2 separate regions of the Homo sapiens genome follow, and region 2 is linked to region 1. Evidence: fine-mapped expression QTL. A gene starts in region 1. The other region holds a variant in brackets. All regions are shown on one strand. Distances are from middle to middle.

Region 1 (16,528 bases):
ACCATTGGCTCCGAGCAGTAATAAAGCAGAATTTTTTGAAAAATACCATTAGTTTTTTTAAACAACATTGATTTTACATATATATATATATATATGGAGAGAGAGAGAGAGAGAGGGAGGGAGGGAGGGAGGGAGGGAGGGAAACGGAGTTTCACCTTGTTGTGAAGGCTGGAGTGCAGTGGCGCGATCTCTGCTCACTGCCACCTGGTTCCAGCGATTCTCCTACCTCAGCCTCCTGAGTAGCTGGAATTATAGGTGCCTGCCACCACACCTGGCTAATTTTTGTATTTTTAGTAGAGACGGGGTTTTGCCAAGCTGGCCAGGCTGGTCTTGAACTCCTGACCTCAGGTGATCTACCCGCCTCCGCCTCCCAAACTGTTGGGATTATAGCTGTGAGCCACCACGCCCAGCCAATATTGTAATATTTTATTCCTTAAGCTGAGTGGTGAGTGTATGAGGCTTTGATTTTTAATAATTCTTTTCACCTTTTCAGGTTTCAGAAATGTTTTATGATAAACATTTAAAAATTGGTATTTGGTCTTTCAAAAATAATACTAAAATAATTATAATGAGAGAATGCAGGGCTTTGCTGTGCTTTGTTATATTTATTTGATGGTTTGTTATTATTTTTATTTTCAATTCCATACTGGCGGAGAGGAGGTCATGGAATTTTTTTAGAGGTTCTAGAGGCATGAGTTGGGGTGATGTTGTCAGAGGCATTTGAACCAGATCAACTCCATCTTGAATAGGGGCTGGGTAAAATAAGGCTGAGACCTACGGGGCTGCATTCCCAGATGGTTAGGGCATTCTAAGCCACAGGATGAGATAGGAGGTTGGCACAAGATACAGGTCATAAAGACCTTGCTGATAAAAAAGGATGCAGTAAAGAAGCCGGCCAAAACCCACCAAAACCAAAATGGTGAAGAGAGGGACCTCTGGTTGTCCTCGCTGCTCCACTCCCACCAGCGCCATGACAGTTTACAAATGCCATGGCAACGTCAGGAAGTTATCCTATATGGTCTAAAAAGGGGAGGCATGAATAATCCACCCCTTGTTTAGCATATCATCAAGAAATAACCATAAAAGTGGACAACCAGCAGCCCTCGGGGCTGCTCTATGGAGTAGCCATTCTTTTATTTCTTCACTTGTTTTTTTGTTTTGAGACGGAGTCTTGCTCTGTCACCAGGCTGGAGTGCAGTGGCGCGATCTTGTCTCACTGCAACCTCCGCGCTCCCGCCCCCCTGGTTTAAGCGGCTCCCCTGACTCAGCCTCCCAACTAGCTGGGACTACAGGCGCCCGCCACCACGCCCAGCTAATTTTTTGTATTATAGTAGAGACGGGGTTTCACCATGTTAGGCCAGGATGGTCTTGCTCTCCTGACCTCGTGATCCGCCCGCTTCCACCTCCCAAAGTGCTGGGATTACAGGCGTGAGCCACCGTGCCAGGCCCCTTTACTTGCTTAATAAACTTCCTTTCACTTTACTCTATGGATTCGCCCTGAATTCATTCTTGCGTGAGATCCGAGAGCCCTCTCTTGGTGTCTGGATTGGAGCTCCTTTCCTGTAACAGTGTGGTCCACAATGACAGCAACTGATGTGCAGAGCAAAGGAGGCCACAGTCACGCTGGCCCTGCCTGCCCTGCCCTCTGTCTGCAGCCCTGGACAATATCGTAAGAGAAACTGGTAAATGAGCAGTCTTCAGAGACCAACCTCTATGGTGGCCAGAGCACCATGCTGTGCAAGGCACCAGCAGAAAGAGGGGAAGACTCAGACTTCAGTCTTTCCGGTCCGGAAGGGCTTCTTTCAGAAAAGTGGCTCCAGAGGGCAGCCCCAGCCTAGAAGGCATGGACCTTTGGGTCACTGGAAAGGTCCCAGGAGGGAGTGGCTGCCTGGAGGGGCAGGGAGCTCACCGTGGCTGGGAGCATTTTCTGGCTCTGGAAAGCTCTCTCCAGTGCAAGGTGAGGGGCAGTGTTCTTATCCCCAGGCTGGGAGCGGGTCCCCCAAGGCTGAGTGCTGGGAGAAATTCTGCATACACCTCTCTGTGGACTGGGACACTGGAATGCAATAATGGAAATAATAACGCCTGACAGCAGAAGTTTTCAAACTTGAACTTGAGTATCCAAATTGCCTGGAGGGCAAGACACAGATTGCTGGACCCCAACCTCATATAGTTCCATCCAGTAGGTCTGGGGTTGGGCTTAAGAATTTGCCCTTCTAACAAGGCTCAGATGTTGCTGATACTGCTGGTCTCTGGCCCGTGCTCTGAGAACACAGAGGTTAGCTGAGAGCACGTGTCCCATATGATCTAGACAGGAAGGGTCCAGGCCCCCATGTGAATGTGCTTCCCAAAGTTCCTGTGCTTCCGGGCACTTTGATTTGCATGACCTCTTTTAACTCTGCCTTCCTGAGCATCCCGCTAGGCCATCCATCCTCTCCTTTGCTCCACTGCATTCATCTAGCAGGAGAATTCAGCACTTCTCCTTATTTCCTTTGTATGTGTAGACCACTTGAATGAAGGGTGGGGTCAAAAGAATTGTTGACAGCAAGTCAACAACTTCCAATTGAATATCAACCATGTGCTTTCTTAAGGAGTCCCTCACCATTCTACCCACTCTGGCTCTGGTTTCCTCTCTGGTTCTCTAATTACTGTCTGTGTTCTCCCTGCCCCCGCCTCCCAATTCTTGGACACATTTTATGCAGAGCAGTTTAGTTCTCCCTTCTGGTGCCCTTTCCTGCCAAGCAAGTCATTAGGGTGTCTCTGACTGCCCCAAGAGACAGATCAAGGCAGTTGCTAAACAAAAACGGTTCCCACCCTCTGATTCACTCTGGTGCCAGCTGTTAAGATTGTAAAATTTCACCCCATTATCCTAAATGTCCCCTAATCTGTCCCCCGGCATCATTTAGAAAATTCTGTGGAATCCAACTGCTTCAGAGTCAGAAGCAATTTTAGAAGTCGTCAGTCCAGCTGTTCTTAGCCTGTGGTCCATGGACCTCTTAGCTAGATTCAGGGCATCTATGAATTTGGATGGGAAAAAAATGACATCTTTATTTTTACAAACTGAAATTTGGTGTTTTCCTTGATGGGGCAACAAATAGATAGTATTAGCAGTATCTGTGACTTTGTTACCAATAGAAATCAGCGGTATTCTCAAATCTCATTTCAATTGTTTCAGATGTCTCAAAATATCACTTACATGCATCAATGCTTTGAAATTATAATAGTCATTAGAACTTCTGCTAGATCACATTACTTAGTGCATCAATATAGAAGCATATACCTTACAGTATTCAGCTGTGTTTTATACATATTATCATAAGCACATTCTGCATAATTGGTTATCTTTGCAATCCTATGTACTTTATCTCATGCATAGAAATACTTTTTCTGAGAATATACTAGAATGCCAAAGAGGTCCATGGCACACAAACAATTTAAGAACCTGCATTTAACTCAGCTCTTTGATTTTCTAGAGGGAACTCGTGTCCCAGGCGGAGGAGATACCTTGCCCACAACCACACCACTGGCTTTTAATAGGCTGGTTTAGAACTCGAATATAAAACAGGAGAGGGGGCTGGGCGCAGTGGCTCATGCCTGTAATCCCAGCACTTTGGGAGGCCAAGGTGGGCGGATCACCTGAGGTCAGGAGGTCGAGACCAGCCTGGCCAACATGGTGAAAAGCCATCTCTACTAAAAATACAAAAATTAGCCGGGCGTGATGGCATGCGCCTGTAATCACAGATACTAGGGAAGCTGAGGCAGGAGAATTGCTTGAACCTGGGAGGTGGAGGTTGCAGTGAGCCGAGATCGAGCCACTGCCCTCCAGCCTGGGCAACAAGAGAAAAACTCCATCCCCAAAATAAAATAAAATAATAAAATAAAACAGGAGAGGGAAGAAAACGAGAAGGATGAAGCAAGCAGTAAGGGCTGGGGATAAAGGCCTCACCCCCAAACCAGCCAGCATGGCCTGCTCAGAGCAGGGGGACAGATAGGCTGCCCCTTCATGGAAGTTCTATTTCTAGTGCCTGACAGCCCCTTACGCAGAGCTTGCCATCCAGTGCGGCATCTCTGAGGAGCATTAGTGCAAAACTGTGATTCATCAGAGCAAAGAGGAGTACACTTTGCTGACTTGATAAGCGTGTTTCTTGCCAAATCCTTGGTTCCCAGATACTTAATGGGTAGCATTGTACTCTAGAGAGAACCGTACCGATTTGGAAACTTCTGTTCTGATATGAGGGTCTCAGTCCCTCTCAGTGGCATTCACTGAAATGCTCCCCACCTCCTTCTCCCCTCACATATCAATATCCTTCACTGATCTGGGGTGTGTTCATGATTTAGACTTAACAGAGCACTTCCTCGCATATAATTGCATATAAGTGCATGCCATAAGATTGTGTACAGTTACTAGAGATGGCTGAGTTTTTGCTCTAAACTCCTTAACAGCCCATGCAAAGAAAGAAATAGGTTTATTACAAGATTGTTATGACCACCATTTAAATGGAAAATTCATTTGTTTGCAATTAGCATAGTTTTCCTGATTCTGAGAATGGATTCTTTGAGAATTCTTTCTCATGTTGGGGGCAGGTTTTAACTCCTAGGATCAGCTCTCTGAGCCAAGGGGCTTGCTCAGGTCTTTAAGCTGTTAAGTGGTGGAGCTGAGAACAGCACCCACATTTTCTGGCTGTGAAATATTTTTGTTCTTTATTAGAGGGCTTGTTCTCTGACTGTTGCATGCATGTATTTCTGGCTCACGAATCCTATTATTGCTTTACTTACATATATTTCTTCCACTTACTGTTTTAAAAGTCCATGCAAATTCCAATTACTTTCCAAAATCACTTGACATCAGCTTTGTTTGACAGTCCTTTTATATCGCTCGCCTTAGTTCATTAGGCAAATAAAGTGAAAAATCCAAACCCCTTCTTTTAGCAGAGACATCAGTGTATTTCTACTAGACAGATTCTAATAGCAACCCAGGAGGTAGAATTCTTACTTCTAGCGAGATTCTGCTAATTTTTTTTTTTTTGAGACGGAGTCTGGCTCTGTTGCCCAGGCTGGAGTGCAGTGGGGCACGATCTCGGCTCACTGCAAGCTCCGCCTTCCGGGTTCATGCCATTCTCCTGCCTCAGCCTCCCGAGTAGCTGGGACTACAGGCACCCGCCACCACCCCTGGCTAATTTTTTTGTATTTTTAGTAGAGATGGGATTTCACTGTGCTAGCCAGGATGGTCTCTATCTCCTGACCTCGTGATCTGCCCCCCTCGGCCTCCCAAAGTGCTGGGATTACAGGTGTGAGCCACCGCGCCCTGCTGAGATCCTGCTAATTTTAAAATTCTTATTCACAAACAATAGCTACCATTTATTGAGTGTTTGTTTAAGGCACTGTGTTTAAGCGCTTCACTTCCATGATCCACTTTAATCCTTAGTTAATTTACAATGCTTTCAGGATAGTGTTTTCATTTTGTAGTTGACGACATTGAAATTTAGAGATTTTGAGGACAGATCTGATTCCAGAGTTTCTACTCTTAGCCACTGTGAGCTATTGATTCTATGTAACTGCACACACTGATTTCTGAGCACTTCTTGGGGCCTTTGGGCCAAGTCTTTCTGCTCTTTCTCTCTTATCTGTCTCTTTCCGTCTTTGTCTCCCCACTCCTCTCTCTCTATTTTTTTTTTCAGACAGAACCTCACTTTTTTGTTGTCATTGTTAAGACAGAGTCCTGCTCTGTCGCCCAGGCTGGAATGCAATGATACAATCTCGGCTCACTGCAACTTCTGCCTCCAGGGTTCAAGCGATTCTCCTGCCTCAGCCTCCCGAGTAGCTGGGACTACAGGTGTGCATCAGCATGCCCGGCTAATTTTTGTATTTTTAGTAGAGATGGAGTTTCAACCATGTTGGCCAGGCTGGTCTTGAACTCCTAGCTTCAGGTGATCTGCCTGCCCAAGCCTCCCAAAGTTCAGGGATTACAGGTGTGAAGCACCATGCCCGGCGAGAACCTCACTTTGGAATAGAGACCCCACAGAACCTCAGAGCTGGGAAAATTTCCTTCCCATCAAGCACCAATTTTCCCTTGCCATGGAGCACCACTGCTGGTATGTGCGCACACAGACCCCTAATTTATGCATGTATAGTTATTTACAAGGATGTGCAGGGTGGACATGTGTTGAGGCTCGGACAACAATACCCCAAAGTATGGCACTTTGGCAGGCTGAGTACTTTGAACTGATGGAGTTTGGATGACCTCAGAAGCAGCCTCAGAAGCAAGTTCTCTCTGACCTTCTCCTGCCCTCCTGCACCCCTTGTGCACCTCTTCTCCCATGAGGTGAGTCATAGAAACCAGAGTTCCCCTTCCCCAAGGTGAGTCATAGAAATTCTTCCCCCAAAGCCACCGATAGAACCTAAAACTATGACTCAAACTTTCCTCCACCCTTCTGCACAGGAGCTGGCCGTAAAGAAATTCTCTGACCAACTTTGTCTGAGAGTAGGTCCTAAGACCCTCATTCCAGAGGGGTCGTGCCCCATACCTAGAAAGAAGAAATGCTGTGCAGAGAGGCCAAGAAGAATCTGAACAGACAGGCCCTGCTGGGTCCCCATCCCATCACCTCGGTCCATTACAGTTAATCAGAACTTTCTGTCCAATCGCATTTCTATACCACTGTCCATTCCTCATTGAGTCTAAGCATAAAAATGGACAGTTCTTCCTGAGCCTTTCGGTATTCATTTCTGAAGACTCACATGTCACATTAAACTTTGATGAAATAAAATTGTTATGCTTTCCTTTTGTTAGTCTGCCTTTTGTTACAAGAGTGTCAGCCATGACCCACATGACTGGTGAGGAAAAGTATCACACTTTTTCTCCCCTACACATGTATATCACTGTACACAATTTTTTTTTTTGAGACAGAGTCACTCTCATCATCCAGGCCTGAATGCAGTGGCACGATCACAGCTCACTGCAGTCCTGACTTCCCTGGCTCAATTCATACTCCCACCTCAGCCTCGCAAGTAGCTAGGACTACAGACACATGCCACCACGCCCAGCTAATTTTTGTATTTTCAGTAGAGATGGGGTTTCACCATGTTGCCTAGGCTTGTCTTGAATGCCTGGGCTCAAGTGATCCACCTGCCTTGGCCCCCCAGTACTGGGATTATAGGCCTGAGCCTCTGCACACAGCCAAAATAGAATTTTTAAAGGAAGAGGAGAAATATGAAAAGGATTTCTATTTTTTTTCTTTTTGTATTCCAGTGGATTATCTCGCCCCCCCGCGAGCTGTGTGTACACCCAGGATGGGCCTCAGTTCCCTGACTATGGGTGAGTCCACGCTCTGCCTGGAACAGGAGCTTGGCTGGTCTTTTCCTAAGGACTTCCTTGGATACAGACCGGACAGTCCCTCTCCATCATTCTCCACTCTGTTTCCGGCTAGGCCCACCAATCTTCTTGCGTAGCGCCCAATACTGTTTGTCTGGGTGGAAATCCATCTCCGCCCAGCCTTTCATGGAGATAGAGGAAAACTGATCGGCATTCTTCCTCCATAAACTTGACAGCACTTGACTCCGTTTGGAAGATTGTGGAAGCGAGTCTTTGCTGTGTTTATGAGACCCCCGGGGTTGTTGCGAAGATCAAGTGATAAAGAGGATGAAGAATTTTGCGATACACAAAGGGCTCCAGAAATGTCGAGTGATATTATTAGCAGTGATTTGCATTCATGAAGGGAAGAATGGACGGAAATTAAATGGAACACTTTGGACACGTGTAAGGAAACTGCTGTCGGTCTAGCTCACTCCCCAGGCCGGGGAGCCTTCCTGGGAGGACCCATTTTCCTACACAGCTGCCCACAGCCCCTCTCCATTTCCACCTCCCTCTAGGTAGGAAGGGAACTCAGGTTGGGCAAAGGCGGTGAATTCGCATCTCCAGGAAGCGGCGGGGCCGGAAGGCAGCCAGCAGGGGGCGGCATTGCGCAGGACAGGAGAAGGTAGCGGCCAAGTTCCTCATGAAATCCACGTGCGTGAGGCTGGGAAGGTCCTCTAAGATGTTTAAATAACCCTTAAAGCGGAATCAAGATTTGTTTTTTTCTGCAGTTAGAGAGTTTGCTCCCTCCCAGCCGGCTCGCTGAGCGCTGTGGAACCCTTCGGCTGGGCTCCCCTGAAATCGGGCGCTTGTTCTGGGACAGGCGCAGAAGGGACCCCGGGAATCACGCTTGCGCTCGGGATGTGCAGGGTTCCAAGGGTGACACAGGGGAACTTTTCTATGCAAGGGCTAGCTGCTAGTGCAGGTCTCAGACTTACCTTCCGTTCATTTCAAGACAAATTGAGCTCAAATTACCCTTTTCTTTTTCGTTAAATGAATGGGGAATGAATGAATGAGATTTTCTGTTTTGAAGATGAGGCTCATCTCCCCTCCCCTCGCCTCCCCTGCCCTCCCCTACCCCTGCCCTCCCCTACCCCTGCCCTCCCCTCCCCTCCCTTCCCTTCCCCTGATCCCAAAGTTGATTCCCGGTTGCAGGAACACAGCGTAGAAAATTCGATGCATTCTCTCAGGAAGGAGCCTGGAGTGGGACTCAGGGGACCTGGGTGCTGGTCTCAGCCCCACGCCAGTCGTGGACAGGCTTCTGTTCCTTGGGCTTCTCGTCTGTAGAATGACGGTTGGAGAGAGGATTTTTCTCCTTCTCTTCTACAAGGATGTGCTGTGACAGCCAGGGAAGGGCTGGCCATGCACAGTGCTTTCATGCATGGGCTCTGACTGTCACCAAAGAGCCAGACCCGGCCACAGGCCATCCTGGAAGAGGGGAGAGCCCTTTAATGTGGGCAGAGGGAATGTTGGCCCGCCAGAGTTCCCTCTCAGGTGTGGTGGGAGTGGCAGTTGAATGGGGCAGTTGGAGAGGAGGACTTCAGGCGGGTGGGACAAGAGAAACTGAATCTGAGGTCCTTGGGGAGAAGCAGGCCCTGGAGTCCTGGGCAGCAGATGCCAGGCTCTGAGCCCCATGACTGCTGACCCTCCTCCCCTCCCTCTCATCCTCAGCCCAGGTAAAGCTTCATTTCCAGCCCAGGTAAAGCTTCTCCCTGTAACAATTAGTGGCCACCATTTAGTCCCAAGGGCCTTTGTTTCTCATCCTCAGGACAGGCTGTGTGTGTGTGTGGTGGGGGGTTTGGGGGAGGTGACACCACTGAATGGGGCTGCCCAAGTGGGAGGCAGCAGGGACGAGGCTCCCAGAAGAAAGGCAGCCCCTCTTCCACTTTTGGAGCCCCCGCTATCATAAAAGAAAAGGCAGAAATGCCAAGACGCGATTTCAAAATCTCTGAAATACAAAAGCCTACATTGAATATTTTAAGTCTTTTCCCACACATGCACAAACACAAACACATATACAGGGTAGTGTTCACAATTTAATTATGGGATTTATACCTCCCCCCCAAAAAAAAAGACCTGGAAAGCTTTACTGCAGTTCTCATATGAGGTTTTCATCTTTCTTTCTTTTTTTTTTTTTTTTAACTTTTAAATATATTATTTTCCTGGGAGGGTAGATTTGAATTGCTCTGAATCCAGGCTCTGCATCCTTCTTTGATCGTGTCGGAATGTGTCTGTAACTGGATGGATGACCTCTTTTGGAGATGCCATCACTGGCCACTGTTTTAGGCCTTCTGGGAGATGAGGGTACTTGAGCAAAAGCACCCCCACTTCCCTTCCCACACCCCCAGCTTGGTGCTGTCCCCTGCATGCACTTCCCTCTGCCACCTCTCTGCCTCTCCCTGCCTCCCAACCCCAGTCCCTCATCACTCACAGGGCTTTCTGATCTGGCTGCCACAGGTGCCTGGGACCTGGGGACAGACAGGAGAGGTGCGGTGCAGGCAGGGCCTGGGAGAGCTCCCCAGTGTCTCCTCTGTGCTGGAGGCCAGTCAGGCCCTGGAGGAAGGGGCTGTGGGAGTTGGGGGAGACCATCAGATATTGATAACTTTGGTGGCTTTAAATTAACAATGGATTTATTAAGAAAGAAGTAGGGCTGTAGTCTCATACCTGGGAAAAATTTTATGACTAAAGGTGTGCCTGCTTTTGGTTGATGGAGGAACTCCCATCATGAGCACCAAGGAAGACCCAGAGTCCAGTTCTCAAACATAAAGTTGTTAATTTTCTGGGCTAGACAGGGGCAGAAATGAAATATAACAGAGCAAAGTGGGCAGGTGTGGAAAATGGTTCTTCTTGAGATGACTTCTAGACATCTTTTGTTCTCTCTTGGGGCAGAGACAAGGATAGAGAAAAAGGCCTCAGGAAACACTATAAGGAAGACAGCAGTGCCAATGCAATAATAAATGTTACATGACCCCAAATCTCAGAGTCACAGAGACAGTAAGGAGTGGTGGGGATTGTGGCAAACTAAAGCATGTATACCCTGCCCAGGAGGGGCTGCCGTGCTCAACGTAAGTGGATTGTCACCACATGAACATACAGAGCTCTTGATATTTGACGAAAGCCAGAAGCCAGTCTTATTTTTTTTTTAATGTGGTATCTCCTCATTTTTAAATGTTTTCCACAAATTGGAAAAAAATGTTTAAACTATGCAGGCCATATAAAATGGAACTGCAAGTTGTACATGGTCTTTGTGTCCTGTGCTCTAAACAGAGGCCTTCCTGCTTCTGCCTGTCCAGTCTGTTGAGGTTAGGTTAGGAACCCCCTGCCTGCTAGCAGAGGGGTGCACCAGTGACTTTTTGGCATCTCCTGCCAACCCTCAGATGCTCTGCATGGAAAACACAATGCCAAGAACAGAGCCATGATGGCTGCAGGGACCCTGGCCCGGTTGGCACTGCCTCCTCCCAGCTCTCATCAGCTGTGTACCCCTCAGACCCCATCCTGTGATTGCCAGCAAACAGATTTCTCACCCCAGGCAGCTCCTCACTCCTGGCAGAGGATGGCGTGACAGACGGGGATAGAGACGTTAGCCAAAGCAGGCTTCCTGATTTTAAAAAAAGTCTCATTTTTCCCCCCAGGGCTGCCAAATTTAGCAAAGTGCCATTCCAGCTGCAATGCTTCCAAGCCGCCTCAGATCATCAAAACTTCACATGCCCTGGGGAGCACTCAAGGAAATTACCTTCTAGCACCAATTTCCTATGCGCGCTGATTACTCAAACCTGGCCAGGGAGGCCTGGCCTCCAGTGTTTGGCATCTGGGACTCAGGAGCCCTTAAGACAAGCTGATGACATCTTGCTGCCAGGGTCCCTTACCATTAGAAAAGGGAACCAAAAAATAGAAGTTATAGGTAAGGGTTCTCCACTGACAATGAGTTCCACCTTCTCAAAGGGGCTGGGAAAGATTAGCCTGGATGAGAGAGGACTAGCCACTGGGTGGCTGGGAGTGAGTTGTCGGAAATGACAATGGTCCTCAAATATCACAGGGCACATGAAGAGGACATCAGTGGAGGATGCATGGCTCCTGAGAGCTGAGAAGTGTGCAGAAAAATTGCATTTAGTTCCACAGAAGGAAAAAAAAATCATCCCCTTTAGGGCTATTTCTTTAGAAAATGCTTAACTTTTTATTTTGTAATGATTTCAAACTTACAGAAAAGTAACAGAAATAATGCTAAGAGATCCCAACTACCCTTCACTGAGATTTGCAGTGACATTTTTGCCACATTTACTTTAGCATTAATATCAAAATCAGGAAATTTATCTTTGATAAAATATTATTGCAGAATCTATAGTCCATATTTAGATTTCTCCAATGTTCCAATACTGTTCTTTTACACATTTCATTTACTTATTTTTATTTTTTTAGAGCAGGAGTGAAAATTTATTAAAAAGTTTTAGAGCAGGGATGAAAGAAAGTAAAGTACACTTGGAAGAGGGTCAGGCGGGTGACTTGAGAGTCAAGTGCACAGTTTGACCTTTGACTTGGGCCAATAATGTTCTTTATAGCAAATTAATTTTCTTCTGGTCAAGCATCCAATCCAGGCTTGTGTGTTGCTTTTAGCTGTCACATCTCTTCTGTATCCTTTAATCTGGGATGTTTCCTCACTTTTCTTTGTCTTTCGTGCAATTGACGTTTTTGAAGAGCACAGGCCACTTGTTCTGTAGAAAGCTCCTTTGGGTTCATCTGGTATTTTCTCAAGACTAGACGCAGGGTATGCATTTCCTGCAGGAATACTGCATGCGGGCCGTCTTGAGAAGAAGTGACTGGGGTCTGTCACCAAAGCATGTTGAGGCCCGATCTGGTGGGCCAGAGGGAAATTCTCCCTGAGAGGCTGGTTTGCCATGTCTTGGATTCTATGATTCTCCCCCAAATAATTTCAGCTGGGTTTCAGAACTTGCCGTGAGCTCTTTCTTCTTCATCAGCTAACCTGCTTTCCTACCTCTGCTTTGCTCAGGTTACCAAGGGCAGGGCAGTGGCCCAGCGGCCACTGGGAGGTCGTAGGTTGTTGATCATGGACCACAGCTTGACTGTCCGCTGTGCCCGGCAGTTGCAGAGCGGGTGGACATGTGGTAGAAAGACCGTGCCCAAAGGCCGTACTTGGGTTCAGGCTTCTTTTCTTGCTTCCGATCCAGACCAGGGCTGGGTTCTGTTCATGCAGGGAGCCAAGGACCTATGCAAGAATGAGAGGCCAATTTTTAAACTTTTCAGCCCCAGCATCTCTGCAGTGGATAGCCTCCCTCTGTCTCCTGAAGTAAATGCAGAGAGGTCAGCAGGAGGCTGTTCTGAGTGGAGGGTGCCTTGGGTACAGAAAATTCTGAAGGGCTTTCTGGTAAACAAACAAATGGAAGTCTTGTGGAAAAGGATCCAAGGAAGGTTTTGAATCTGAAGTCTTTCACGGTCATGCCAAGCCTTGTCTCGACTCTTACCTAAGTCTGGTGCATAGAGCCCCATGACACGGGCACACCACACAAACCAAGGCTCAGGCAAAAATCTCTGTTTGGGCTTTTTCTCAAATCCTTCTAGTCTCACCTCCCACAAAAGTCCTCCCTAACCCCGTCCTCCTCCCAGACCGTATTGACCTCTACTTTCTCAGAACTTCTGTAGCACAGGTCTGCATTACTCAGTGACACTGAGCACAGACAGCCTGCTTTCGGCTTTAGATTCTTAAACTTATGATCAGATATTACAGCAATGTGGGAGGAAACCTGAGTAACTTCCAGATCTTATTTCCCCACCCCTAGAGGTAACCATCATCTTGAATTTGGTGTAGAGTGTTCCCATTCATTCTGTAAAAATAAACTTTATTTTTTAAGAATGGTTTTGGTTTACAAAAAAAATTGCAAAGATAGTACAGAGTTCTCCAGTACCCCATATCCAGCTACCCTTGCTAATAACATTAATAACATCTCATGTTAGTATGGTATATGTGTTGTAATTAATGCACAATATTGCTACATTGTTAACTAATATTTATACTTTACTAGATTTCCTTTGTTTTTATCTAACATCCTTTTTTGGTTCCAGGATCTCATCCAAGATGCCTCTTCACAGGTAGTTGTCAGGTCTCCTTAGGTGCCCCTTGGCTGTGTCACTGTCTCAGGCTCTCCTTGTCTTTGATGACCTTGACAGTTTTGAGGAGTACCAGTCAGGTATTTTGTAGACTGTCCCTCAATTGGGATTCGTCTGATGTTTTTCTCATGATTAGACCGGCGTTATGAGGTTTTGGGCGGAGGACCTCAGAGGTAAAGTGCCCTTTTTGCCCCATCATATTAAGGGTACACGTTATCAACAGGACTTATCACTGCTGATGTTGACCTTGATTACCTGGCTGAGGTGATGTGTGCCAGGCTTCTCCACTGCAAAGTTGCTATTTTTTTTTCCTTTTCCATATGGTACTATACTCTTGGAAGCATTGGATTCTAGTTGATTAAGTTGTTTCTCACAGGGCTATGGGTTGACAATTCTGATACTGCTATACATGTACACAGTTAAGTAAACACATGGTAGATGGTGAGAGCCAGGCTTCTCAGTTTTAGAATTGGAGCTTACAAATAAGCAAGGGGAGGAGGCTAGAATTGTGATAATTATGGTAATGGATTCAAGTTGGAGAGTCAGTATGAACTCACTGTTAGCTTAAAATAGATATGGACGGTTACATATAGAAATATTTATAGATATGTGTTTATGCACTAGTTAATATGCATACATATATTTCCTTGCTTTGTCAGCTGAGAGGGCCTAGAAGCAACAACATCCTAATAACAAAGAATTTACCTAGTGCCCAGATCTTAGTTCTAATACGATTCTCCAATATAAGGAGATTCAAGTACTTGGAGAAATGAAATCTTACTACAAATATAGTCATTATTAAATAAAATATATTATTATATATTGCAAGCACATGAATTTGTGTATTGTATATTTTGCAAGTTTGCAAACTTTATATAAATGGTATCAAAGTGTGTGTATTTTTCTGCAGCTTTTTCCCCTCCTCTCAATTTATCATATGAGCTATACACATAGTTTGATATGTGGACTTAGTTGATTCAGTTTTACTGTTGAATAGTAATATGCCAAACTCATATTATACAATTTGTTCATCCATTTTCCTATTCATGTATGTTTAAGATATTATAAACAGAGCCACTATAAATATTCCTGTAGAGGGGCCACAAAAATATTTTTTGCATGAGATTCCATCCTCTGTGGATTGTTTCCTTGTGTTTTCCTAGATTGAACTTCAGTGTTGACACCAGTATGAGAGAAGAGAGGCTAGCAGGGGCAGGGAGGAAATTCGCAGGAGAGTGGAAGACAGCCTGCAAAATTAGTGGCCACTCTGTATCTGACTGCTTGAACAGGCAGGCTTTCTCCAGGGCATATATATAATTAAGAAGGATAATTGCTGCCTATGTTAGTAAGAATCTTTAACTTGACCAGATAATGCCAAATTGCTTTAAAAATTAGTTATACAATTTATATTCCCACCAGGGGTGCTTAAGAGCTGCAGTGCTCCATACATATGCCAAGACTTGCAATTTTTAGACTTTTAAATAATGTCTATTTGAAGAATGAGAAATGGCTGTTATTGTGATTGTGGTTGTAATTCATATTTTCCTGATACTCAGAGATTGAGCATATTTTTGTGTGTATTTGGATCATCTGTCAATTGCCTTTTGCTGGCTCCTCTAATTAATTGTTTGTCCTTCTGTTATTAATGTATTGAGAATTCTTTATAAATTCTGCATACTAATTCTTTACAGTTAAATGGGTCACATCTGTGCCAGTATGTTGCTTCTCTTACAAATTATGTCTTCTGTAATTTCAGTGTACTAGAATTTATCAAGATTTTGCTTTAGGACTTTTTAAAGAAAATTGCTTTAAGAAATTATTCCCTATCATAAGATCATAAATACATATCTCTGTATGTACTTTGTACTGTTAACATGGTATTCCTTTTTCACCCTGCTACTTTTAGCTTATTTGTGTGTTTATATTTAAAATAAACTTGTCATAGGAAGCATATCATTGGATCTTCTTTTTATATTCAGTCTGACAATCTTTGTTTTTTAATTGAAATATTTACTCCATTTATATTTAATGTAATTGTTGATATGGTTGTGTTTAAGTCTATTGGCTTGCTATTAATATTTGTCTTCTATTTATTCCTTTTGTGTTTTATTCTTCTGTCCCTCCTTGCCTACCTTTTTTTTTTTTTTTTTTTGGTTAATCTACTATTTAGTGTTTCATTTTATTTCCTTGACTGACTTCTTAGCTTTAACCCTTTTTAAAAAGTATTTTTTCTAGGGCTAACACAATGTTATAATTTATACTTTATTTGTTATTTTTATATCATCCCATACTTAATTTCAAAATAATTTATATTTTACTGTGTGTTATTGTGTGCTTATTTTTCACTTTCTGGGGAAAGGATTTGCATCTTAGTTGTTTCTCATACTTACTATTATTCATTCATTCAACAAATACGTATTAAACATTTCCGATGTACCAGGGACTATGCTAGGTATTGGAAATATAGCTGCAAACAAGACAAACAAGAAGCCCACAGTTTGTTTGGGGAAATAAAAAAGTATGTAGGAAAGTTTTCTTAGAAAAGGAAATGTTTGAACTGAGCCTTGAAGGCTGAGCAGAAATTGGTCAAGTGAAGAAAGGGATACTAGATGGTTCCAGGTTGTGCCAGTAGTAAATACAAAAACTAAAAAGCAGGAGGAATAAACAGTTTGTCCAGGGAGTAGTAAGATATTCCACATGGCTGGAGTGCAGTATTCAATGGTACAAATAGAAGGTGGAGAGTAGAGTATGCAGTTTGGCCAGAGGTTTAGGGAGTCTCTGGTAGCTGCTAATACTCTCATTGAATTAGGAATCTACAGCTGGGTCTATGATATTTATGTCATTAATATTCATTAACTGCACTGGGCACAGTAGCTCATGCCTGTAATCCCAGCACTTTTGGGAGGCTGAAGCAGGCAGATTGCTTGAGCCCAGGAGTTTGAGACCAGCCTGGGCAACATGGCAAGACCTCGTCTCTACTAGAAATACAAAAATTAGCTGGACATGGTGGTGCACGCCTGTAGTCCCTGCTACTTGGGAAGCTGAGGAGGGAGGATCACTTGA
Region 2 (16,528 bases), 64 kb after region 1:
TTCTTTTTTTCTATTCATGGCGTCTTCTTTTTCTTCTTATTTATAATCATTTCTTAAATTTATTTAACAGTTTGAAATAGCCTGTTTCATGTTATTACACGAGTCTTGTAAAAATAATTTCTAAAGGCCACCTTTCATTTCACTTAGCATTTTCTTCTTTTTAAAATATGGGGACTACATTAGTAAATCTCTCTGGCATCTTCCAGCTTCAAACTTCTAAAATATGACATAAAATGTATAAATCAGACTGGGCGCGGTGGCTCACGCCTGTAATTCCAGCACTTTGGAAGGCCGAGGTGGGTGGATCATGTGAGGTCAGGAGTTTGAGACCAGCCTGGCCAACATGACGAAACCCCATCTCTACTAAAAATACAAAAATTAGCTGGGTGTGGTGGTGGGCACCTGTAATGTCAGCTACTTGGGAGGCTGAGGCAGGAGAATCACTTGAACCTGGGAGGCAGAGGTTACAGTGAGCTGAGATTGTGCTACTGCTCTCTAGCCTGGGCAACAGAGTGAGACTCTGTCTCAAAAAAAAAAAAAAAGAAAAAGGATAAATCACAGTAGGCTCACTGCAGTAACAATAAGCCCAAATCTTAGGGAGATCATGCAATAAATTTTTATTTTTCCTGATGTCACAATTTAGTGAAGGTCCATGGGGCAACAGTAGGTGATTGTACTCCACACTCAGGCATAGTCTGTTTCTATCTGGGGCTCTTCTGTCCCAAGGCCCTGAGGTATTCTCTCGGATCTTCTGTGTTAGGCCGGAAGACAAGGCGAGAGGCCAGGAAGGAGGACCCAGGGGGATTTTATGGTCCAACCCTAGCGAAGTGTCCCAAGATTTCTGCACATTCCTTGGCCACATTGGAGTCACATGGGCTCACCTAACGCAAGGGAGGCTGGGAAATGTAGTCCAGCTGTGTCCAAAGGAGGAAAAGAAAATGGAGTTTGGTGAATCCATAGCAGCCTTTCCCACTTTCTGTCTTTTCCTTCCTTAAAATGCCAACACACCCTTCAGAGAGAAAGAATTAGATGCAGTTCTAAAGGGTGCATCGAATGCATTCTAAGTTTGGAATTGCATTAAATTTATTTATTTTTATTTTTATTTTTTGAGACAGAGTCTTGCTCTGTCACCCAGGCTGGAGTGCAATGGCATCATCTCGGCTCATTGCAACTTCTATCTCCTGGGTTCAAGCGATTCTCTTGCCTCAGCCTCCCAAGTAACTGGGGCCCAGCTAATTTTTGTATTTTTAGTAGAGACAGCATTTCACCATGTTGGCCAGGCTGGTCTCAAACTCCTGACCTCAAGTGATCCACCTGCCTTGGCCTCCAAGAGTGCGGGGATTATAGTGAGCCACTGCAACCAGCCTGGAATTGCATTAAATTTAGAATTGCCTCTAATTCTCTCTCTCACGCCCCCTCCATTTTACCACCCAGGATCTCAGAGTAGACTTGACATCACACCTTGTCTTTAGTTCAGTCAGCACCTAGTCCGGACCCTAGTTTGACCTGAACATCGTTTGTCAAGAGTCCTGCCTCACACATAGACACTTCCAAAGTCCTGGCCATGAGGAAAGCCCATGGAGCCATTAGTCTACTCACCCACAACAAACACACATGCAAACTTTGTCTTCCCACAGCTTCTACTCCAAGATTTCTGAGAGAATCCTATAGGGAGCCAAGAATGACTGATGGGGGTTCCCTTCTTTTAATAGTTTCTTTCCAAAGGGCTTGGGTTTCTGACGTGTATTGCATTTGCCACCAGACAAAAATGCTACAGCTTAAAAAATGTAAAAAGATTAGAGGTCAAATTCCAATTTGATCCCAGCTAGTGATTTTGTTTCTATGCAATCTAACCAACCACACGGATAAGACCACAGGTGACTTCCAGGTCATGGAGGCTGTCAGTTGAATTTGTATGCTGTATAGCTACATGATAGAAACAGCACTGTGTTTTGAAGAATATTTTGACTAAGCTCTGGGGAAAATAAGTTAGAGTTGAAACAGAGAGGAGGAGAGGGCAGCAGAGCCCAGGGCGGCTGGTCAGAGGGGCTTCCAGGCAGAACTCTGGGAGGCCTTCCAGGACAGCATGGAGCAGCAGTGCCTGAGGCCATTCACAGCTATGCCAGGGGAGGAATTGTACCTCCTTAGGGCTTTAAGCGTGGAAGGGTTTTCATTTTTCCCCCAGTAGTTTCTACCAGCTGTTCTCATGAAGCCCTTCCCCACTAGATCAGGGAAGCCACAGTGGCAATTGAATCTGATGTCTCTTTTGGTTAATGGTCAGCTCAGTGCGGTGAAAATTTCAATCTTGAATATATTCAAGCCACAGGTCTCTTTCCCCCAGAGGCTTGGTGTGGCAAGGCTATGCTGTGTGTGTGTGTGTGTGTGTGTGTGTGTGTGTGTGTGTGTGTGTGTGTCAGGTGGGGCAGGCTTGCAATTGAGAAGCACCTGCTCTGTGCTTTTAAACACCCTCTTCCTTTTCTCCAGGCCTGGCTCTCTGATGCCCATGTGGGGGAACTGGGGAGGGGACAGCAGGAAGAACACATCCTTGGGTGACTGGCACCTCTGGGCCATTCTCTCCTTTCTGCTATCCTTTCCTGCTGCTGCAATGCACTGTGCAGATGTGGGACAGCAGCTTGGAGGCCCCAGTAGGGCCAGAACCCCAGGAGTTCTGCCAGCATTGCTGCATCGGTAGGAGTTGCTGGGTCTTCCTGTGAGTTCTGCCTGGCAGCCCTCACACTGCACTCCTCTGATGTGGAGGCCCCTTTGCTTCATGCCAGGGACCGTCACATCAAGACTGCAGCCTCCAAGGTCATCTTCCTTCTGCTATCTCAGCCCTAGGAACTGTGGAGCTGATGGGATCCACCTTGCATACATCTGGGGAATGCGGAACTCCAGGGGGTGGGTCTTGCCCCCATCCCCTGGCTGTGTCATCTCCCTGTCACTCCGCTCTGTGCTTCTTCCCCCCTCTCCAAGCCCTTTGGCTCCGTGGACGTGCAGCAGGGATGCAAGGTGTCAGCTTCCTGTCCTTGAAGAAGCTCCCAGCTTTATAAGCAATTGTCTTCAATCTTCTTTCTCTGATTCAGGGAGGGAAACCTAACATGCACCCTCCCTTCCCTCCTCTACAGTCACAAACATTGATTTCCCTAAAGGTGACCTCCTCCACAACCCACCCCCACCCTTTCTATAGATCAAGGGGGCCAATTGTCAATTCCACAAAGCCTTTGAGGGTGACTGACTCCACGATAGGGATCCTTTGGAGTCAGAATGTGAAGCACTCGGCACCTCTTCTTCTCAGCTGTAGATTCTAGCTGCCAGTTCTGGGAAAGACAGAAAGAGCCACTTAGCACCCTACTCTATTGCCACATGAGATTTCCCAAAATATGTGCAAATCAAAGATGTCTAGAGTGGCAGATTTTTAAGAGCATGAATATATGTTCATTTTTGTAAGAGTTTGCTATGTGAGAGTGTGTTCCCTTGATTAAAAATTCCTTGGCCTCATTTCTCCAGTCACCCTAACCTTAAGTCTACAGCACAACCTGATCTCCTGCTTTTTCTGATTTTCTTGACTGTAGGTTTAAGACGCTAAACGACGAAAACTCCAGTCACCTCCTCTACTTTAACTGTGCTCTCAGGTGGTTTGCGCTGAGAATGGATGTCCTCATGAACATCCTTACCTTCACTGTGGCCTTGTTGGTGACCCTGAGTTTCTCCTCCATCAGTACTTCATCCAAAGGCCTGTCATTGTCATACATCATCCAGGTAATGCCTGGTGCAAAGTTGGGCTTAGTCTGGAGGCTCCGGCCTGTAATACATCAGCGAGGGTGCTTTTGGATGGACACAACAAAAACCCCAACTCGAATGGGTTTAAATGAGAAAGGGAGCTTAGTGGCTCACATCATTAAAAAGTAGGATGGTTGTGTGGACTTCAGGCACAGTGGGATCATGTCTCTGAGCTTTGCCCATGCCCTGTGATGACTTTCCTCATAGGTGACCAGCAGCCTCTGGGGTCTACAGCAAAGAGGAAGCAGAAAGAAAGCATTTCCTGGCCCAGCCACGGAGGCAGAAGCCTGGAGCTTTACTGTTATTGGAGGAAAGCATTTCCTGCCCCAGCCATGGAGGCAAAAGCCTGGAGCATTACTATTATTGGATTAATTTAGGCATCCCAAAACTAATTAGTGGTTTGATGGGATACGGATCATTGGTTAGGCTAGGGTTGGAGTTACACCCATTTCCAACTTTAAGTCACATAGCTACTCCACAGTGGAGGGAGTGAAATGAATGCTGGGGAGACAGTCATAATATTGATGACAAATAATTACTGACTTCTCTTCTTGGTTGCTTTTTTTTCTTTTGAATAACAATAATAGGTGAACATACGGCATTGATTGTGATTGGCTTCAGGCCCTGTCTTTTAACTAAATTAATTCATTTCCTCCCCACAACAACCCTCTAATACTGCTGTGGTCCCCATTTTGCAGATGAAGAAACTGAGCCACAGAAAGACTTGTCCCAAGATCATAACAGCTGTCACATGTGAGGGCCAGGATTTGAATGCAGGCCACCTGGTCCTCATGTTTGTTTGAATCTTGTTATCTTTGGAAACTTTTTTGACATAGTCCTTATTCTTAGTGCTCTGAAACTCTGGGATAATGTATCTGAATGTGGGTCTTTATTCATGTGTTCTGTTTGATGCTGTGAGTTCTTTAAGATTAAAGTCCAATTTCTCATCAGCTTGGAAACATTTCTCCTTTTTCTCCTTCATTTTGACAATGTCCTCTTTTTCTTTCTTTTTTTTTTTCTTACTGTATTCATGTCAGTTGAATATTGAATTTCTTGCATCAATTCTCTATGTTTCTTTTTCTTTTCTCTCAGTTTCCATGTTCTTGTCTTTTTATCTTGGGAATTTTTGTTAGCTTTGCCATTCAGCTATTCCTTGAATTTTAAATTTGGCAATCATATATTCACATATTTAATTTCCACAAGCTCTTATTCTCTGAGTTTTTAAAAGAATCATTTTTTACATGGATGCAGCATATTTTTGAATCTCTCTGAGGATATTAATATTAATTAGTGTGTTAGTTCTCACACTGCTGATAAAGACATACCTGAGACTGGGTCATTTTTAAAGAAAAAGGAGTTTAATGGACTCACAGTTCCACGTGGCTGGGGAGGCCTCATAATCATGGTGGAAGGTGAAAGGCACGTCTTACTTGGTGGCAGACAAGAGAGAATGAGAGCCAAGTGAAAGGGGAAACCCCTCATAAAATCATCAGCTCTCGTGAGACTTATTTACCACCATGAGAACAGTATGGGGGAAACTGCCCCCACGATTCAATTATCTCCCAACCCACTGGGTCCCTCCCAGAACACGTGGGAATTATGGGAGCTACAATTCAAGATGATTTGTGTGGGGACAAAGCCAAACCATATCAGTTAGAGTCTTTTTTTCCCCTCCTAAACTCTCCTCCCTTCTTTGACTTGCATCTATCTGTTTCTTCCAGAGGTAGTTTTTCTTTTTGTTTCTCTCGTTCTTGCTCTTTCATGCCATTGGTTTTGTCCATCTGTCTCCTGACCCATTAGTATTTAACTCCGGGGAACTGGGTTGGGTTTTCAGAGTTTCCTCTGCCTTTGTTTCACCTTGCTAGGTGTCTCCTGATGGGAAATTTTATGACTGCAGGTAGGTGGGTGGTGGGGCTTTTCCATAGGCTGGCTTCACTTCAGGAAAGCAGCCAGGGAGCTGGCTTTTAGGTACCCAAATGCAAGACTTAAAGGAGTTTTTATGCAGGGGACTATTCAGAGAGCCCAATTTATCCCTAGGCAGTTAATTCAATTTCTTTAGAGAAAATCATGTTTATGTGTGTGTGTCCATGTGCATGTGTGCTCCCATGCCTAGGGATAAAGGGTCCAACTAACTCTGGTTAGGAGAAAGAAGAGGGGAAGAGGAGTGAGTGAACCAGACAGGAGTGGTTGTCTATATACAGAGCCTATCAGCCAGCCTCTTTGTGGGCCCCCTTCTCACACCTGGAGCCTCTCTGGGTTCTGCTCTTTAAACTCTAGCATGCTCTGCTTCCATTTTATCAAAAGGCTTTCGTCCTCTTTCCATCTTGCAGAAATTTGTAGCTTATTCACTGCTATCTCTTCTCAATCCCCTTACTGTTAAAGGTCTATTCTTTATGGAAAATTTCTCTGATATAATTTAAATTGTATTTTGGGAAGAAAGGAAACAAAAATGTATTCTCTGTACTCTCTCTTAAGTGGGGAAAAATGAATTTTCCTTGGGTAACCAGTTTCCTGTATTGATAGATGTCTTCATTTGTTGTTGCCTAGTAAAATATCAAACAGATGATGTTGAACAGTTTCCCTTAATTGGTCCAAGTAAAACAGCTTTCCCCAACTAAGGTCATGCTTTTGGGCGATATTATCAGCTTTCCATGAGATTGTTTTCAAACATTCCTGTAAGGTTGTGCACAGCATTGAGATCTATGGGAACACTTGTTCTCCAGCTGGCTCTGTGGCTTCATTGAGCATTAGCCCCCTTTGGAGAACACAGAATCAAAATGACAGCACTCCACTTGAGATTAGAGAAGACTCCCCAGATGGATGAGAAATTGGCATGAAATCCCACAGAGCAGAAAGTGAATGCAAAGTGACATCATATCACATCACGTAGGAGAATAAGCACTTCCTGGGGCCAGCACTGTGCCTTTGTGGGCATCCTAAACCTGGGAGGGCTGCCGTGGCCTTGGGAGCTGATACTCTTGCATTTAGCAAAAGATGTATATGCCCTTCTCAAGGGCAGGGTTCATTCATTCATTTGCCAGATATCCCCTGAGCACCCACCATGAGCCAGGAACTGTGCTAGTGGCTGTGGAATCAGCAGTCAGCAGTCTGGACAAGTCCTGCCCTCATTCTAGTGGGCAGCTGGAATAAATGAGGGCCAAGTAAATAGATGAGAAGCTCAGAAGGTGTTTAAATGTTAGGAAGACAACGAGTGGAGGAATGTGGCTGTCGGAAGGGGAAGCAGCATTTCATACAACAGCCAGAGGAGGCCTCTGCTGGGAGGTGGCTTCCAAGCTGAGACCTGAAGGATAAAGAACCAGCCAAGGAAGACTGGAAGAAAGAGTGCCTCAGGGAAAGGCTCAGCGGTAGGCATGATCCTGGCATGTTTGAGGATCTGAGAAGCCCACATGGCTTGAGCAAGGTGGTATGAGGTGCCGGCAGAGTAGAATACATAGAGCTTTGTAAGCCAGGGGCGGGGTATTACCTGTATTCCAAGACTGGGTTTCTCAACCATGGCACTGTGGGCTTTGGGGCTGGATAATCCTTCTGGTGAGGGGCTGTTCTGTGCGTGGTAGGATGTTCAGCAGCCTCCCTGGCTCTGCTCATGAGACGCTGGTATTACGTCCCTCCCGCCAGGTTGTGACAACCCAATCTGTCTCTAGACATGGCCAAATGTCCTCTGTAGGGCAGGTTGAGAGCCATTGCTCTAAAGAAGTGGAAACTGCTGAACTGTATTAAGCAGGGAGGCCTGCTGAGGGGCTCTCAGAGGGTCTGCACCCATAGCGTTCTCCACGTCACGCGCCTGCTCGCACCCCCTGCCTCTTTGCTGCTAAGACCGCTTGCTTCTTACTAGAGCATTCTTATCCTGAGTTTGACTGGTGGACTTCTTATCATAAATGCCTCAGCTCGCACAGTCCTCTGGAAACCCCTATCTAAGGTAACTCTCCAGCCCCGGCCCCTCTCCCACATCAACCTGCTTTTGGGACATTCTTGTCACTCCCGCAGTGGCCTTGTGCACCATCCCTGCCAGTCCACTAGAATGGAAGCTGCTTGAGTGCAGGGATCTTGTCTATAACCTTCAACTCTGGAAACCGGCACCCCAACCAGTACCTGGCCCATGGCTACTGCTCAGTCAATGAAGTTCGCTAATGCATGAGATGGCCCTGCCTCTAGCCCACTTGGTGACAAATGCTGTGGCTGCCCCACCCTTCCAGGGCAGGCTGGAGGTTCCGGGCATTCTCACACCCAGAAGCAAGTGCAGCAATGACTGAGGGAGTTAGTGGCTCTGTAGCCCTGTGTACCCTGGCTTCCTTGCCCCAGCACGGGACAGTTCCGAGGTGTGCTCCATTCAGTGTCCCAGAGCTCCAAGACCAGCCGGACTCTCAGTTGCCCACAGCGGTAACATCTCACA[G/A]ACACACCTGGTATGGGTGGCCTCTCTTCCCCTGCTCACTCCTCCATCCCCTCCTGGTACAATCTGGGTTCACCGCCTATGTTTGTTTGTGAAGGCTGCTGTGACAAATTACATGCTTGCAGGCTTCAAACAAGAGAAAGGTTTTCTTTCACTGTTGTGGAGTCAGATGCCCGCACTCAAGGTGTTGGCAGGGCCAGCTTCCCTCCGGAGGCTCGGGAGAATCTTTCTTCTCTCTTCCAGCTTCTGTGGCTGCTGGCCATCCCTGGCATCTCTTGTCTTGTAGCTGCATCACTCCAGTCTCTGCCTCTGCCTTCACGTCCCCTTCTCCTCGGTGACTTCTCCTCTGTCTCTTATAATGACACTTATCACTGGACTTAGGACCCACCCAGGTGATCCAGGATGATATCAAGATCCTTGCTAACACCTGCAAAGATCCTCTCTCCAAATGAGAGAGCATTCGCAGGTTCCAGGGATTAGGAAATGGACACATCTTTTAGGGGTAGGGACACCATTCAACCTGCCCTAATATACTTCTTGCAGTCAAATCTTGGGGTTGGCTTTTGGGAGATCCAGGCCTAAGGTGGGTGACCTTAGCAAGCCACATGCCCCAGTCTGAGCCTTGACTTTCTCATTACTATAACAAGAAGACAGGCTTGATGGTTTTCTGGTCTCATGGTGATGTGGTTTTCAGTTGTTTTTTGAGCAAGGGGCTAGGGGAGGGCTGCTCTGAGATGCAAGACCCTGCCAGGTGGCAGCAAGGGGCCGATAGCCAGCAGTTCTGCAGCTCCCAGGGAGAATTCCCACCACTCAAAGAGGCGTGTGATCAAGTGGTTCTGTGGGGAGATGATTCTCACCATCTGGAGTGCCAGGGAAAAATGTAATTACCATTTGTTTCTAAATACAAAGGAAGTGTTTAAAGGCAAAACACCCGAACAGGAATATCTTTACTTCTGGGCGCTTGGCTGGGAAGGCAGGCCTCCTGTTTGTGCTGTCTTGCGCTAGGCAGGGGAGGGATCATTCACTAGGACTGCCTCCTGAACGGGGAGCTGCAGAACCCGAAGGAGGAAGGGGCTCTAACTGCGGCTGCTCGCTCCTTTTCAACAGCTGAGCGGACTGCTCCAAGTGTGTGTGCGAACGGGAACAGAGACGCAAGCCAAATTCACCTCCGTGGAGCTGCTCAGGGAATACATTTCGGTAAGAAATTAGTGCATCAGAGAGGAGGGACAAGTTAATTTTGGCAGGACTTGGGCAAATACTGGATCTTTTTAGATGCGAAAGGGGTCTTTTTAAAAAACGGAAATCGGGCCGGGCGTGGTGGCTTACGCCTATAATCCCAGCACTTTGGGAGGCCGAGGCGGGCAGATCACCTGAGGTCAAGAGTTTGAGACCAGCCTGGCCAACATGGTGAAACCCTGTCTCCACTAAAAATACAAAAATTAGCCAGGCATGGTGGCGAGCGGTGGTAATCCCAGCTACTCGGGAGACTAGAGCCCAGGAGGCGGAGGTTTCAGTGAATCGAGATCGTGCCATTGCCCTCCAGCCAGGACAACAAGAGTAAAACTCCATCTCAAAAATCAAAAACAATAGCAACGACAAAAAACCCCAAATCGGACGAGTCATCCCTCTTCTTAAAACCTGTATTTACAATACATTCTGAAGTTCTTGTTGTTGAATGTGAGGTTCTTTTTAACAAGGTTTCCTTAAGGGCTGTTTTGATACACAGAAAAATACAATTCAGTGGCTTACTTTGGTTTCTAAAAATTAATATTTTGCCAGGCTCAGTGGCTCACACCTGTAATCTCAACACTTTTGGAGACCGAGGCAGGAGGAATGCTTGAAGCCAGGAGTTTGAGACCAGCCTGTGCAGCACAGTGAGACCCTGTCTCTACCAAAAAAAAAAAAAAAAAAAAAAGTTCAAATTTGCCACGTGTGGTGGCATGCACCTATAGTCCTAGCTACTGAGAAGGTTAAGGAGGTAGGGTCACTTGAGCCCAGGAGTTTGAGGCTGCAGTAAGCTGTGATGATGCCATTGCACTCCAGCCTGTGCAACAGAGCTAGACCCTGACTCTAAAATTTTTTTAAGTTAAAAATTATTATTTGATTGAAGTCATAAGTTGAAAAATAGAAGCTCAGTCTAACTCTTCTTTAAAAGCTTTTATATCCAACTTACAAATCTTGCTATTCTTTTAAAAGAAGTCTAGCCAATTCTAGCAATCACATTTAGGTGCCTTTGAAGAGTGTTTGGCTCCATTTACAAACTTAAAGATTTTAAAACATTTTAAACTGCATTTTAAAATTTAATACATTCAATTTCTTTTTAAGTACCTCAATGATCTGATTTAACAACAAACCTTCTTGAGTTTGTACAAATTTAATTAATTAAACTTATAAACATAGTAAGCTTTAAGTTTTCATGACAGTATCAATGCTATAAACAGTAAACTTTTAACTTAAAATCGTGTTTAAATCAATTATTCAATTATGCATTTTAAATTAGAGTCACAAGCCCAAGTTCTGTTAATATATTGTGAATACTTGAAACACCAAGTGTGCAGATTTCTTAAACTAAAAATATTACTGTTACAGTTTCATTTCTCTAAAATATTTTTATTCCTAATTCTAAATCTTCTAGGGGTTAAAAATACTCAGTCCTTAACAATACAGGTATTTTCTCAGCTAAATGAGGTTGCTTATTGACCAGAGATTTGGGCTGGTCCGCCATCCTGATGGGGCACACGGGATCCCTATTTCCAGCTGTTTACACAGAGGTGACTTAAGAGGAGGGGCTGCTCTTGTGATGAAGCCAAGCTGCTCTACTCCTTAATTAGACCTTGCATTTCTTGGACTCTTAGGAGACTTAAATGTTTTTTTTTTCATGTATGTCTAAAGACCTCTGAACTTGACATCCTGCATTCTTATCATCTTTCTTCTTCTAGTATAATGATGATTCTTGCAGATTTTGAAATTATATCTGGTTGAGTTCTGCAAACTCAAGGCTATGTCTGGCCTTGTCACACAGCTTCAGGGCTACACTTCTGACATTTTCCCAGGCCCACAGGCCCAGTATGAGCTTCCCCTTGTGTATTCCTCTAAGTCATCCATCCCTCTATTCGCTAAGCTCCAGCCACATGACTTTTCTTTCCGTCCCTCAAATTGCCCAAGCTCATTCTGGCCCCAGGGCCTTTGTGCTAGCTATTCCCCCAACCTGGAGGGCTCTGGACTTGATTCTCTTGTAGCTGACATCCTCCCAGCACTCCAGCCCTCAGGTCCAATGTCACATAGGTGCCTTCCTGAAACCTCAAGTACTTTTACTCTCCTACCCCCCTTTCCCAACACACAAATCACATTCTGTATCCTATTGCAATATTCTGTTTTATTGTCTTCATTTTTAATTTTTTTTCTTGTTTATTATCTGACATCCCCACTGGAATGTGAGTTTCTAGAATTAAGGGTCATTATTGGTTTATTTCACCACCATGAATAGCAGTACCTGAAACTGTGTGAATCAATGAATGAATTAGTTAAATAAGTGAAAAAACAAATGGCTAGTCACTGGTCATTGGTTATTCTCCTTTACAGACCTGTGTTCCTGAATGCACTCATCCCCTCAAAGTGGGGACCTGTCCCAAGGACTGGCCCAGCCGTGGGGAGATCACCTTCAGAGACTATCAGATGAGATACAGAGACAACACCCCCCTTGTTCTCGACAGCCTGAACTTGAACATACAAAGTGGGCAGACAGTCGGGATTGTTGGAAGAACAGGTTCCGGTGAGGACAAGCTCTGCTTTTGTTTCTTTTGGGTTGTTTTCTTTGGATTTCCACTGGATGTCCTAGTTAAGTCACACCAGAGAGTGATGTGTATGTGTGTCAGATTGGCTGTTATTTCCCTCAAATCTCTTTACTGTAAATTAGGATTTCAGGTTGAATGGGTGTGTAGAGATGGAAGCAAACACATCAGTTTTTGAATTAATTAAATGACAATCATCCTAGTGCAACAGGGCTCCAGAGATGAGTTGTGTGCTAAGGGCCCCTGCAAGGATGGGCAGGTTAACTGTGTCAGGGTAGCCCATCCCTCCACCCCCACCCTGGTGAGGACACTTTCTGTCTACACTGTCATCCTTACGGAGACATTTGCATTGCATTAAAAATCCCACTGATTAAATGCTTGGATATGATGGAAGCACAAACTGATGTTTGATTTGTTGTTCTTACTTTTATGGTTCCCAGGAAAGTCATCGTTAGGAATGGCTTTGTTTCGTCTGGTGGAGCCAGCCAGTGGCACAATCTTTATTGATGAGGTGGATATCTGCATTCTCAGCTTGGAAGACCTCAGAACCAAGCTGACTGTGATCCCACAGGATCCTGTCCTGTTTGTAGGTACAGTAAGGTAGCTGTTTTTAATCATTGTGCATTTCTATTTTTGGAGAGTGAAATCAGACTGACCAAGAACTTTGTGATGTCCCCAGGGCATGGCTGGCCTGGAGCTGTTCTGTCTGAGGGAAGCAGTATCCCAGGGGGGCTCACAAGCACTGCTGGTCCCTGTTTCTGCATCCAGCCTTGGGAGGAGCCAGGGCCCGGGGTCTGAGCATTACTTGTGTTTTATAAACACATTATTAATGAGCAAGATGCTTCTGTATTCATTCATACACTGAGCAGATATTCCAGTGGCTCTGGACAGCCCTAGTTTATGCCTGTGTCCCAGTATCCCATCAGGTTTAACAATGGCCACTCTGAAAAGTGTCCCAGTTTGCACAATAAAATAAATAGTTACCCCGTGTATACAGCTATCCATTGCAAAGTGCATTCATTTATTTCCACACCTAAGTGAACAGAAGCTATTTCAAGCACAAGAACAGTAGGGCTGCAGCTTCTGTGGGGCTCCAGATCTGATATCAAGGCACAAGGGGAAAGGCAGTTTCTCAGTTAGCTCTCTCTGTGATGAGAGGAACATTTCTCCCATACAGCACCAGATGAAGTAGGGTAACTGTATTTACTGTATTTAGAGTTCATTGTTTGAAAAATGCATTCTGCCTCTTGAAACAGTAGATTTACATTCTGCGTCTGAGCTGCTCAGCACCCTGTGAGGCCCTAGGAGCTGCCGATACATGGAGTGGCAGATTTGGGTTGCTCACTCTCCCTCTTTCTCTGCCAAGAATTTTTATCAGTTCAAACCCACTCTGCTACTCGGGGCTGCTGAGAGGCCCAGGTGTGTCTTTCTGAGCACCTTGCTCAGAGCTGCCTCTCGGCAGGGTTCCACCTGTCATTGCCTGCCTCAGTGGTCTCTGCTCCATTGCAGAGTTGTGGGCCCTTGGTCTCGTGGCCTGAGGTCCATATTTTGTGGACCACTGTCCTGTACTGAGCACTATTCTTGGAGCACGAGGTCATCACATGCCACCTCCTACCCTCCTCCACATGCTACAGAAAACCTGCTCCGCATCCATCCTCTCGTCCTTGGAAATCTGGCTCCCTGTCCTCTCCTCTCCTTCATTGCAGGTACAACTTGGATCCCTTTGAGAGTCACACCGATGAGATGCTCTGGCAGGTTCTGGAGAGAACATTCATGAGAGACACAGTAGGTCTCTGGGGCTGTTGAGGAGGAGTTTGTTTCCCAGCACCACTGCCCTAGATTCCTGGCCTATGTTTAAATTTGACAAGCACCTAGGCCAGCACTTAGCCAGGTTTATTTGTAGACACCACGTAAGTCAGTAGAACATAATCCTTAGTTATTCTTTCCTATTAAAAGCAACAATAGGGCTCTACAATGATCCAGTCAAGAGCACTACATGTATCATCTCACTTGGTCCTTACTACAATGCTCTGAGGTTGGTACTCTTACCCCTAATTTTAGAGATGAAGAAATTAAAGCTCAGGGAAGTAACATGCCCAGGCTAGTGAGTAGCAGGATGGAGACTTGAACTCAAGCCTGTCTGGCTGTAGAGCAGATGGAAGGCCCTGCTACTCTGCCAGTGGCCTCATTTGCTATCAGAACAGACAAGCCACAGAAAACAGAAGGGTGTGGAATGTTCTGGGAATGGCAAGTATGGCTGGTTGGAGAGGACCGAACCATCTGTGAGAGGGAACCCTGTCCTATAAGAGCTACAGCCCCAGCTGGGGTCAGCAGGTGAGCATGGACACCTCTGCAGCCCAACGTGATATTTTTCCAGGACTTGGTACCGACATGAGCATCTTCCAAGGCCACTTTGGCTTGTCACTCTGGATAAGTCAGACCCTGTCTTACCCTTCCTTAATGTCCAGAAAACTCTCCCATCCCATCTCTATTTGGTCCCTGGAAACAGCAATCCAGAAAGCTGTTTCCACTTGTTTGTTTGCTCTCTGGGACTGCATCTGCATCATTTGTTCTTTTGGTGAATTGTCTATGGGGTTCTATGAGTCATACTGTGATTTTAAATTATTAATGTCCGTCTACTCCCTGGTCTTTCCCTGGTGCCTGTTTGCAATATTGAAATGATTGTTGTTTTGCACTTTCTTTGCCACAGTAAAATAAAGCAAGCTGATGAATGCAAGAGAAGGGGGCAATCAATACAGACAGCATAGGACAATTTTATAGATCATCAGCACAAATGTGGCATTTTTTGTGTTTTGTAGATAATGAAACTCCCAGAAAAATTACAGGCAGAAGTCACAGAAAATGGAGAAAACTTCTCAGTAGGGGAACGTCAGCTGCTTTGTGTGGCCCGAGCTCTTCTCCGTAATTCAAAGGTAAGAAAACACGGAAAATGGATTGGTCAAATTTTGGATATTTCCCGCAGCGCCACTCAATCCAGGAGGCAGAGCCACGTGTATGTCTTTCAGCAAAGAGACAGCAATTGAGCCATTTAAAAACCGATCACTTTTTCTTAAGACAAAGTTGTGAGGGATAAAAATTGAAAAGTAACAGCCATTTACAGCAAGAGCACCTTCCCCTCCCAGGCTTCCCCTGGGGAGGTCTCGCTTAGATTTTCACTCTGCTTGCCTAAGTGGTTTGAGTTTGAAAAATCTGTCTCCCAACTTTCTCCCATTGTCTCTGAACAATTCTGAATCTGGATACACTGTCCCCAGGATGCTCAAGAGGGCCATCAGAATGCTAGGATATGGGAATTGTAGAATTTATACTTATTTTTCTTTGTAACTTAGCCACCCTTACTTACTGATTTCCAGGAAGGGATTGCTGTTGCTTTAGTAATGCCAGTCTCTGAAGCCTCATCAAAGATGTGACCCATTGTGTGTATTCTCTAGATGTGCTAATGTCAGGGGAGAGGGGCCGGCGTGGATCTGATGCCTGCCGTGGCACTGCATGCTGCTAAGTGGTTTAAGTGTAGTCTCCATATCCAGCTCATCAATAAGGCATAGCCCCCTTTCACCTACGAGGGAACAGAGCCTCGGGGAAGTTAAGTAACTTGGCCAGTCAAGCAGAGTCAGGGGTTAAGTTCAAGTGCTCTGATTTGCTAAATCAAATCCGTCCTGTGATCAGCGGAATAATACCCCCACCTCCCCAAAGATGTTAATGTCCTGATTTTTGGAACCTGCGAACATGTTCCTCCGAGACTTTTAATATATTAACTTACCTGGCAAAAGGGACTCTGCAGTTGCGATTAAGGATCTTGAGATGGGGAGATGATCCTAGATCTGGGTGTGCTGAGCATATTCATATGGGGCTTTCCAAGGAGGAGGCAGAAGAGTCAAAGAGAGAAGGAGCTGTGATGCCAGGAGGGGCTGTGGGCCAAGGAATGCAAGTGGCCCAGAAACTGGAGAGGGCAAGGAAACAGAAAGAATGCAGCCCTGACAATACCTTGATTTTAGGATTTCTGACTTCTGGAACTAGAAGATAATTTACACTGAGTCTCTAAGTTTGTGATTGTTTGGTATGGCAGCAATATAGGGAATGAATGTAGGAGCTGCTGTGCTTCATGCCGACTCAGTTTAGCACAGTAGATAAAGCCTGTGCAGCCTGTCTCCCTATGAGTTTGTAGGGTTAGAATAAACCACTTAAAAAGAGGAATAAAGGATATACAACCTTGTCCCTCTAGCAAGTTCCTTTGGAAAGATGGAGGTGATGTGATGTGACTTTTATTTCACTCTTGTTCTTCTCATTTTCTTTTTTGAGATGGATGTTTAGCTAATTACTTTTCATCTTGTGGTCTTATTTTTCTTCTTCTTCTTTTTTTTAAAGTAAATAGAGCCGAGGCTGTAAATTCCCCTCTCAGTGCGCCTTTGGCTTATAATGTTTCCTCCTCCACAGATCATTCTCCTTGATGAAGCCACCGCCTCTATGGACTCCAAGACTGACACCCTGGTTCAGAACACCATCAAAGATGCCTTCAAGGGCTGCACTGTGC

What was found.
Region 2: its variant is fine-mapped to the expression of ABCC12 in testis (GTEx, PIP above 0.99).

The regions. Positions count from the first base shown.
Region 1 is chr16:48,148,334-48,164,861 of GRCh38, reverse strand. ABCC12 (ATP binding cassette subfamily C member 12) reads left to right here and starts at 8,869. Exons shown (of 31, transcript NM_001393797.1): 1 at 8,869-9,021; 2 at 10,978-11,246. It also overlaps a transcript of ABCC11 not described here. RefSeq lists an enhancer at 5,686-6,885.
Region 2 is chr16:48,083,977-48,100,504 of GRCh38, reverse strand. It overlaps ABCC12 (ATP binding cassette subfamily C member 12), which reads left to right. Exons shown (of 31, transcript NM_001393797.1): 24 at 3,603-3,759; 25 at 9,296-9,385; 26 at 11,771-11,960; 27 at 12,420-12,579; 28 at 13,686-13,764; 29 at 14,799-14,912; 30 at 16,432-16,528. Among named protein-coding and RNA genes, the nearest start is that of ABCC12, 64 kb to the left of the region's middle. The variant G/A (reference allele first, on the strand shown) is at 8,192.